Linked DNA regions of Homo sapiens: region 1 is linked to region 2. A link means that fine-mapping ties the variant in region 2 to the expression of a gene that starts in the linked region. Tissue or cell type: tibial artery. Region 2 holds a variant in brackets; the other region holds the start of a gene. All regions are shown on one strand. Distances are between the middles of the regions. Region 1 holds the start of TMEM98 (transmembrane protein 98). Region 2 has its middle 24 kb from the start of TMEM98.

Evidence for each region. PIP is the estimated chance that this variant, and not a neighbour inherited with it, causes the effect. A credible set is the group of variants that fine-mapping cannot tell apart.
Region 1: TMEM98 starts here. The variant in region 2 is the best candidate, but not a certain one, in a credible set for the expression of TMEM98 in tibial artery (GTEx, PIP 0.58).

The regions. Positions count from the first base shown.
Region 1 is chr17:32,924,998-32,930,378 of GRCh38, reverse strand. It overlaps TMEM98 (transmembrane protein 98), which reads right to left and starts at 2,226. Exons shown (of 8, transcript NM_015544.3): 1 at 2,142-2,226.
Region 2 is chr17:32,949,551-32,954,931 of GRCh38, reverse strand. No RefSeq gene overlaps it. Among named protein-coding and RNA genes, the nearest start is that of TMEM98, 24 kb to the right of the region's middle. The variant G/C (reference allele first, on the strand shown) is at 3,042.

The DNA.
Region 1 (5,381 bases), 25 kb after region 2:
TAGTATGAACACATCGATAGGCACAAACACACATAAAATGTAACTTGATAACAGTAGCTGCCTCTGGAGAGAGGAACTGAAGAACGGGGTCTTTCACACCTATTTTAAACTCATAAGCCAGAAGAACAAGGGCATCTCACAGAAGTACATATTCACTGTTATTTCATTGTAGGCCTCCTGCTTGTCTCTCTTTGTGCAAGCATTCTCCCCTCTCTGGGCTTTAATTTCCCCACGTGAAAAAAAGACACTCTGACTTAGGAGTCCTTAGAATACCAGGAGGGTGCTTTTCCTCTATTTGCACTTAATTCTATCCTCCATGTCTCGGAGGGTCCAAACGCTCTCGGTCACCATTCACTAAGTATTTATTGATCATCTACTATGCATCATGCACTGGAGATTGGAGATAGATAGGACAGAGACCCTGATCTTAAGGAGTTGGTGGGAGAGGCAGACAGGTGACAAACCACTTCAACTCCATGTGCCTGTGCTTCCTGCAGAAGAACACAGAAAAGAGAGTAACTGTGCTTGCATGACACTTTCTGGGAACTGACACTTTCACAGGAGTGGTGAGGCTAGAGCTGGGTTTTGAAGGATGAGCAGGAGTTTGCCAGGTAGACAAGGTTGGGACATGCCTGGCTTAAAGTGCCAAGGAAGCCTTTCTCAAAGGGCTCACAGAGCTGCTCTCCCATCTCGAGCTCACTGGACCACAAGAAGGAGAAGGCTGGCATCTGCCTCTTCTGTGTGTGTCGCTGATTTTGTGAGAGGTAGGTGGGGGAGGGGGGTAATTCTCAGGGTCCGCCTCTGTTTCTCTACGTGTGTGTTTCTCTTTACTGTCCTTTTAACCACCTCCTTTTGGCCTTTGTGTTTTCTGCCTCCTCTTATGTCTGCCTTTATCTCTGTTTCTCTTTCCAGGCATCTTTCCCTCTGCTGCTCCCGTCTCCCGCTTCTCAGTGTCTCTCCTTCCCCTCCCCCGGTCCCCAGGCCTCCAAGACCACCCACTTGGTTTCCTCTCTCTTCCTGTGCGTTCTGAGTGTTTCTCTGATCGTGTTTCTCTGGGTGTGTGTGAGCTGAGTGTGCTTCTAAGTGTGTTTCTCCGTGTGTGTTTGTGTTAGTGTGCGTGAGCTGTTTTTCTGTTTCTGTGTGTGTGAGCTGTTTCTCAGAGTGTGCTTCTGAGTGTGTGAGCTGTGTTTCTCAGAGTGTGTTTCTGAGTGTTAGCTATGTTTCTGAGTGTTTTCTGAATGTGCTTGTGTGAGCTGTTTATCTTGAGTGTGCTTGAGTGGGTGTGAGCTGATTGTGTTTCTCAGAGTATGTTTCTGAGTGTGTGTGAGCTGAATGTTTCTCCGAGTGTGCTTGTGTGTGTGAGCTGAGTGTGCTTCTGAGCGAGTGTGAACTGTTTCTCGGAGTGTGTTTCTGAGTGTGTGTGAACTGAATGTTTGAGTGTGCTTCTGTGTGTGAGCTGAGTGTTTATCTTGTGTGCCTCTGAGTGCGTGTGTTTCTGAGTGTGTGTGAACTGAATGTTTCTGAGTGTGCTTCTGTGTGTGAGCTGAGTGTTTATCTTGTGTGCTTCTGAGTGCGTGTGTTTCTGAGTGTGTGTGAACTGAATGTTTCTTAGTGTGCTTGTGTGTGTGACCTGAGTGTTTATCTTAAGTGTGCTTCTCAGTGCGTGTGAGCTGAGTGTGTTTCTCGGAGCGTGTGTTCGTGGTCCTTCTCTGCAGTCTGCGTGGCGTTTCTTTGTGTTTTTCTTTCTCTATTCTTCCCTGCGTACTGAAGAGTAAGTTTTCCTGTTTTTCTCCGTCTCTTTCTCTCTCCCTTACTTTCCCCCTTCCCCTCCGGTTCCAGAACCACAAGGACAGAACAGACCCAAGACCCTACCCGCTTCCCCGTGCTCGTCCACCCAGGACGCCCACTCTGTCCCCGGGAGGGAGGGACCCCCAGCCCGCCCGGGACGCGCCGCACGGGCCCCGGAGCGCTCCGGGGCGCGGCTCCTACTCCTTTCCCCAACTTCGGGCGCGCGGCCCCGCGGCAAGAACAAAGCTGCGGCACCCGCCTCCCCTCTCCCCGGCAGCCGGGCCAGGCCCCGCGCCCCCGCGTCCCCTTCCCCGACTCGCCGCGGCCCGCCCGGCCCGGCGGGGCTCACCCACCTCAGGCTGTGGCTCCCGGGCGCATCCCGCGACTGCCCCGCCGATGGCAAAGTCCGGGCGCGGGCGCGGGCCTGCAGCGGAGCATGCCGGGAAGCGCCGCGGCCCTAGGAATCCAGCCTCGCGCCCCCGCGCCCCGGCCCCCGGCCCCCGGCCCGCGCCAAATCCCCGCCGCCAGGCGCCGCCGTCACCGCCAGGCCCCCCGGCGGCCGGGGCAGCTGGGAGGCGGGCCCTGGCGACCCAACACCCCTTCCTCGCGCCCCCGCGGTGGCCCGTCCGGGCGGCAGACGGAGAGGGGAGCGGAGGGTCCCTGCCTGCGCCCCGCCCCGGGCTGGCGGTCCCAGGCGGCGAGCGCGGATGGGTACCGCAGGGGGGCTGGCGGCGGAGCCAGTGTGCTCCGCCACGGACTGTCCCATTGAAACCCTGCCTCTGCCACTCACTAGCTATGGACAACTTAGTTCAGCCTTTGTGCCTCGGTCTGTAAAACGGGGCTGCTGCTTGTCAGCATCCTCAGAGTTGGTATTAGGAATGATGGGATGCAGGATGCATCGGACTGCCTGGCCCAGGGTAAAGAGTGAATCGAGGGTCGCTCTTATTTACAGCCTGACCCACGGGTCAGTGAGAAGCAGGCCCACCCCTGGCGACTGCCTAGCCAGGGGCAAGAGTACAAATGCAGAGCCCTTGCTAGTAGTCTTGCTGCTTCTATTCCCACACGACTCCATCCCATACATACTGAAGGGGGTCTACTGGTTCAGGCAAACACACACCCCCTACCCTGCCATCCTTCATTCTAACGATACTCAGGCCAGGCAGGGCAGGCTGCCCTGGGTGGATGGAAGTCAGACCTTGGAAGCAGGCTCAGGGCTGTTTACACAGGGATTTCCGGAGTCCAGGGTACCAGGAGCATGATCTAGAAGGGAACATACGCTCCAGCTGGAGTGGGCCAACTAAAGCACGGGGTTCAGGGCAGGATCCCAGTGGTCCAGGTCTGAGGTCAGTATCGGTGACAGTTAACAAAGGATACAGATTGGGTCCTAGGCCGCTTGACACAGGGTCTGCAAACTGGTACCCCCAAGGCCACATCCAGCCCACAGAGGTGGTTTTTTTGGTTCATACTTTTGTTGTTTTATTTTAATTTTTTTGAGACAGAGTCTCAGTCAGTCGCCCAGGCTGGAGTGCTGTGGCACAGTCTTGGCTGTTTACGGGTGGAGGGTGTCCAGGTTCTTGCCTTTATTTATTTATTTATTTATTTATTTATTTATTTTTTGAAACAGAGTCTGGCTCTGTTGCCCAGGCTGGAGTGCAATGGCACGATCTCAGCTCACTGCAACCTCTGCCTCCTGGGTTCAAGCGATTCTCCTGCCTCAGCCCCCCAAGTAGCTGGGATTACAGGTGTGCGCCACCACGTCCCACTAATTTTTTTTGTTATTTTTAGTAGAGACGGGGTTTCGCCACGTTGGCCGGGCTGGTCTGGAACTCCTGACCTCAGGTGATCCACCCACCTCAGCTTCCCAAAGTGCTGGGATTATAGGCATGAGCCACCGCACCCGGCCTGTTCTTGTCATTTTGAACAAAGAATTAGACAAAAGGCACAAGCAAAGCAAGTAAAGAAAGAATGAAGCAACAAAAGCAGAGATTTATTGAAAACAAAAGTGCATTCCACAAGGTGGGAGCAGGCCCCTGCATATGGGCTCAAGAGCCCCTGCTGTAGAATCTTCTGGGGTCCAAATACCTCCTAGAGGTTTCCCATTGGCCACTTGGCGTTCACCCCATGTAAATGAAGTGGTGCCACAATTAGTCTGATTGGTTGTGGAAAGCAACCAATCAGAGGCTGAAGTGAAGTTACAAAGGTTGCACTCCTATGCAAAAGAAGATTTGGCCCGCAATCAGTCTGATCGGTTACTTTCCACAACCAATCAGAGGCTAAAGTGAAGTTACAAAGTTACACTCCTATGCAAAAGAATATTTGGCCGCAATCAGTCTGACTGGTTGCTTTCCACAACCAATCAGAGGCTGAAGTGAAGTTACAAAGTTACACTTCTATGCAAACGCAGGATTGGTTGCGGAAAGGCAATCAGAGGTACTTTCAAAAGATTTTCCATCTGCCAAGCAGAAAGTGGGGAGTGGGGGTTGCAAAGGGAGTAGTCTCTGGTCCGTTTGTTACTTAGGTGCGGAAAGTTGGGGTTTTCCTTTTGATTTAGTTCTAGGAAGTCAGGTGAACCCTTAGGTTTCCTGCCTCCAGACCCTATTCTCCTGCCTCATCTCTCTCCTGAGAGACATGACCCCCATAAATCTTTATGGGATGCAGAGGAACTGTAACTGCTTTATGCCAACTTGGGGCGTAGTTCCTACCTACTGGAGATCATGGAACTCTTGCCCTACTCTGTCTAGTGGAGACAGTGTGGCATCCTGATGGCCAGGGGTGGTGTCTTCACTTGGAACTGACTGGAAACTTTGTCACATGATCATCTGAAGCTTGATGGTCTCTATGTGAAAGGAAATGAATATGGTTAAAAGATTTAACAGGAACTTCAGGGGGTGGATACTTATGCTGTCAGGAATGTTCATTATGGAGATGAATTGAAACATTCTGCTAATTACTACAAAGGAAGTGATTCCATAAGTTTGGAAGAAGGCAATAAAAAAATGGCCACTATTATCCAGAGCACTTCCACGTTTTATTAAGTACCTTATCTCCTGGCCTGATTTGGGGTTGCTGGGATTGGCCAAGACTCAGCTATTTTTACAGGCACATATTCCTAAGTTAGGTTACCGTTCATCCACAGAGACTCCAATATAGAAATACGGAGTCCTTCTCAGGCTATATTTAATTTGCTTTAACAATTTCCCCCTTTTGGTCATTTTCTCAATTTTGAGAGATTGACCAAACCTTTAGTCATTCATGTCACTACCACCATCATAAATGAACTTATTTGGTCTTGAAACCCACTGGGAAACAGTAAAACAACAGTGAGTTTTGTACAGTGGGAACAAGGACTGAGTAGAGGGTACCTCCTTATGGTGGAACATCCTGTTTGCAGGAGAAAAACAAAACCTGGTCTGTTTTAGGATCTATGTGTTTTGGTTTGTTTGGTTTGCTGGGGCCTAGCACATGATGTCAGTCCAAAACACTGGCCTCTCATAATTTTGTTAAAAAAATTCTCCCTTTTTGGTCAGGTTCTCACTTGGGTGAGAGTGTGACCAAAATTTAAGGCCTTAGCACCACACTCACTTGCCATCATT
Region 2 (5,381 bases):
AGCTCTCCATGGCGCTGGGAGCATGTAAAAGGAGGGTGATGAGGGTCATACATGAACTTGGGTCCTTGCTCTGTCTTGGCCCGTATCATGCCATATTCCATGTGTTCTGGTTAGTTATTCACAGCAGGCAGCCAGCCAGCTGGGCGGCACTCAGCCCCACCTTCTTGGTGAGGTTGTTCCTTGAACTTTATCCCCACGACGGAAAAAAATTTTTTTTCTCTGTATACTTAAGAGAAAGACAGCTACACAGAGTCACACCCACAGGTACAGCTAGCCAGGGCGCTGCAGCCAGGAGGAGGGCTGACGGGCAGGGCTTTCCTCCCCAATGCCAACCTCTCCCAAAGAGAGATGTATCTCTTCTGTAGGGGCCACGTGCAGGTCTGTCTTTCAGCAAACTGGGCAAATCGTGACATGGAGGCAAGCACATGAAAATGGAATTTGAGAGACCTGGTCTCTCATCCCAAATCAGCTCCTAAGCCACTCTGTGACTGTGAGCAAGTGCTTTGACCTCTCTGCGCCTTGAGTTGGTGGATGTAATAACACCAGCCTCATAAGGTCATTCATCTCTTGTGAAGATTAAATAAAATAATGCATGTAAGGTGTTTCCAACAGCTCCCAACATGCAGTAGGGACCCAGTCACCCAAGGCCCCTGTCTCTGCAGGCTCCTCTCAGCTATTTTAACATTCTACCACACTGTGCTAGTGCGTCCCATAATTAGATGACTTTTTTTTTTTTTGGCCCTAGGCATACCCCTTATATTTCTGAACTTAATGAGTTTACCTTTGAACTTTTTCACACTGTTTATGCATTTATGACTTTTTATTATAGCTTTTACAGGATGACAGATGTTAGGGGCTCTGAGTAGCACACTCACCTCCTCTCCTCCATGCAATGAACTGGGAATTCCTTGGTGTGCATTCTTTCCCAGTTCTTCCCTTACTGGCTGCATGAGCTTGGAGCGTGAGTTTCCCTTCCTAGGCCTGTTTCCTCCTTGCTAAGTCTCATTTTCCTAACTAAAAACCAGTAATAATAGTTGCTACCCCTCCAGATCTCCCAGGCTGTTTTAAGGAATCCACAGACTCCAGTAAGATGAGTGTGGCATGTGTTCTCCTGAGGAGAGGAGATGGGGAATGAGCAAAGTCCTACCAGGTCAGGACAGAGTGATCAGTCCAACAACAACACCAACTAAGAGAAAGGATGTCCCAGAGGCCAGGAAGGGTACAGGGAGAGGGGCATGAAGAGAAGTTGATTGATGGGTACAAATATAGACTTAGATGGAAAAAATAAGATCTAGTATTCGATACATCAGCAGTGTGACTATAGTTAACATTAATCAATTGTATATTTCCAAATAGCTAGAAGAGAATAATTTGAATGTTCCTCGCTTAAAGGAAGATAAATATTTAAGGTGTTAAAGCAAATTAAATATGGCCTGAGAAGGACTCCATACTTCTATATATGAGTGATTGTGGACAAAATGTAACCCAGCTTAATAGGCAGGCAAGATTGAAAACCTAACTTAGGAGTATGCACCTGTAACAATAGCTGAGTCTTGGCCAATCCCAGTGGCCACACTTCATCTACTCATGGACTAAGTTAAACTACTCATGGACTAAGTTAAACACCAACTGTAACCAATCCAGCTGTTTCTATACCTCACTTCTTATTTCTGTACCTCACTTCCCTTTTTATAAATTTGTTCTGACCACAAGGCACCCCTGGAGTCTCTCTGAATATGCTGTGATTCTGGGGGTTGCCTGATTCATGAATCATTCATTGTTTGATTAAACTCCTTTAAATTTATTTCCACTGAAGTTTTTAACAAAGGTATTGGATGTCCCAATTACTGTGATTTGACTACATGAATGTACCAAATTATCACCTGTACCCCAAAAGTATGTATATCTAATATACATATCAATAAAAATAAATTTTTAAAAGAAGAGAAAAGGAGTCTTATTCACCCTTCATAAGACAAATGGGGCTGGGTCATCTGGAAAGACAATAAGAGAAAAGCCTCTCTCAGGGGATGTATTAGTCTGTTCTCATGCTGCTAATAAAGACATACCCAAGACTGTGTAATTTATAAAAAAAAAAAAAAAGAGGTTTAATGGACTCACAGCTCCACATGGCTGGGGAGGCCTCACAATCATGGTGGAAGAGCAAAGGACATCTTTTATGGCAGCAGACAAGAGAGAATGAGAGAGCCAAGTGAAAAGGGAAACCCCTTATAAAATCATCAGATCTCGTGAGACTTACTCACCATCATGAGAACAGTATGGGGGAAACTGCCCCCATGATTCAATTGTCTTTCACTGGGTCCTTCCCACAACACATGGGAATTATGGGAGCTACAATTCAAGATGACATTTGGGTGGGGACAGAGCCAAGCCATATCAGGGGAGGACAAAGCCAAAAGTTTCAAAGAGTAAAATTAATAATCCCATTTGCAGAAGTAAATAACAAAGAGGAGAAGGAGAAATGGTAAAGTGCTGAATTGAAGCAGAAATCACTTTTAAAAAACCAAAGAGCCAAAGTGAGAAGTCTGTATAAACAGAATCCCAGTAATTAGGAGAGACAAACGGAGTGGCAGGCAGGAAGGCAATGCCATGCATAGACCTTCGCCAGAAATGCAAGGAGGTCAGAGGGCTGCCACAGGGTTGAGAGAGAATGCACAGGGAAAGGTGAGAAATAAGAAAGTAAGGACATCAGAACAGTGTAATCGTTCTGTTTCAGGAGCAAGGGAAGGCTCAGAGAAAGTGGGAGGCAGGCTTTAGAGGAAGACTACAGCATCATTCCAGAATGGGCCAAGCTATAAACTTAAGAAAGCACTCCCCAGGGAGTCAGAGTCTGGCAATCAAGGTCTCTATATGGCCTCAAGACCAAGAAAACCTCAGATTGCTGTCCCAGGAAAAGGAGAGGCCTAGCCAAGGCAATAATAATACATTTAGAAAGGACAGTGGGCAGCTATGGCAAGCTGGAGCCCTCCAGCTGCAGCTCCAGCTCAAGTCCCACCACAAGCACTGGCAGGAGCAGGTGA[G/C]GCTGGGGGTGCCATGCAGGATGGCAGTGGACCACTCAGCCACCATAAGGGAAAACACAGCAGGGATGACAGAGCGAGCTGTGGGAGAACCATCACATTCAGATCCATGATAAGCTTCAGACCAGACAATGAGCCAGGGACCAATGTTGGCAGGAACACTGGAGGTAAAGAAGATGCTAAACAACTGGGGAAGACAAGGGAAGGGACTGGAGAGGAGCAGGCACATGGGAGCTGAGGCTCAGACACCTGCCTTCAAAGATCACATGGAGACAGACCAAGTGAAGTATCTCCCCCAAGCAGGGATGGGCCAGCAGGGCAAACAAGGAAAGTCATCTGAGTACTTGCTGCTGGAAGAAGACACACTGAGCATCATCAGCATGTGCATTTGTGTGTTTGTGTACTTTGAAGTGTACATAGCTACATTTTTTTTTTGAGACAGCATCTTGCTCTGTGGCCCAGTCTGGAGTGCAGTGGGGCAATCTCAGCTCACTGAAACCTCCGCCTCCCAGGCTCAAGCAATTCTCCTGCCTCAGCCTCCCAAGTAGCTGGGACTACAGGCACACATCACTGTGCCTGGCTAATTTTTGTATTTTTAATAGAGACAGGGTTTCATCATGTTGGCCAGGCTGGTCTCAAACTCCTGGCCACAAGCAATCCACCCACCTCAGCCTCCCAAAGTGCTAGGATTACAGGTGTGAGCCACTGCACCCGGCCCATGGCTACAATGTTTTTGAGCATCTACTGAATGTAAAGCAGTGGGTGAGGCACATTACATACATTAGCTCCGTCAATTCACACATACACACAGACACACACACACACGATTTTGTGTAAGGCCACACAGTAAGTGGCAGAGCTGGGATTTGAATGTGTTTCTTGCATCCCAGGCCTATGCTCATAATCGCTCTTCTATTCCTTAAGATAAAAGGTAATACCATTTGACCCAGCCATCCCATTACTGGGTATATACCCAAAGGATTATAAATCATGCTGCTAATAAAGACACATGCACACGTATGTTTATTGCGGCACTATTCACAATAGCAAAGACTTGGAACCAACCCAAATGTCCATCAACGATAGACTGGATAAAGAAAATGTGACACATGTACACCATGGAATACCATGCAGCCATAAAAAAGGGTGAGTTCATGTCCTTTGTAGGGACATGGATGAAGCTGGAAACCATCATTCTCAGCAAACTATTGCAAGGACAAAAAACCAAACACCGCATGTTCTCACTCATAGGTGGGAATTGAACCATGAGAACACCTGGACACAGGAAGGGGAACATCACACACCGGGGCCTGTCGTGGGGTGGGGGGAGGGGGGAGGGATAGCATTAGGAGATATACCTAATGTAAATGACGAGTTAATGGGTGCAGCACACCAACATGGCACGTGTACACATATGTAACAAACGTGCACGTTGTGCACATGTACCCTAGAACTTAAAGTATAATAATAAAAAAATTTAAAAATTAAAAAATAAATAAATAAAATAAAAATAATAATAAACAATGGGAAGCTTTTGGAGATTTAAAAAAATAAATAAATTTTCACTTAAACTTGAAGAAAAAAATTCCCACTATGTGTCAGTCTAGGTATAATTACTAGGTATTGGAAATACAGTATTCAGCAAAAGCATATAGGGTTCAAACTTTCATAGATTTGACACAGAAAGACACTATTCAGACAATCAGGCTAATCAATATAACAAACTGATACACGTTCTGAGAAAGAAGAAATGAATCATAGTCCTAGGTGCAGGATAATCAGATGTGCACACAGCAGCTTTCCAAATGTGACCCAATCAGCCAGTCTGGGAATTCCAGGTTGACACGTTCTTATTCCTCCCTCTTCAGACAAAGGCCACAGAAATTAGATCAAGCACCTTGAATCAAGCACCACTGTTTAGCTTTCCAATGTCCTCACTCCAGAACTACAGGGAGAGGGTATACTAACATGCCTCAGTTGGCCTCCAGGGTGAAGCAAAGTTGTGGCTAAGTGAACACTTCCTCCACTCTACTAGGAACCCAGCGGTCCAGTGAGGTGCTGTAGCCCACACCTGAAGGTTCCCAAGAGCTGATTATGCACATCACGTCCCATGTTCAATGGCATCATGTTGGTACCCTGAAATCAGACATGCAGGGAGAATTTAAACTCCAAAAACAATAAGCACTACAAATCAAACAATAAACACTGCATCTGGGGGAAAAAAAAGATAAAAGGTAACTCTAGGAGATACTTTCATTTCTCCTATTTGATTGGAAAATGGGAGGAAAGGTGGGCTCTGCAAAAAGTTCTTCTGGGATGAGACGGGGCACTGAGTCATCCACT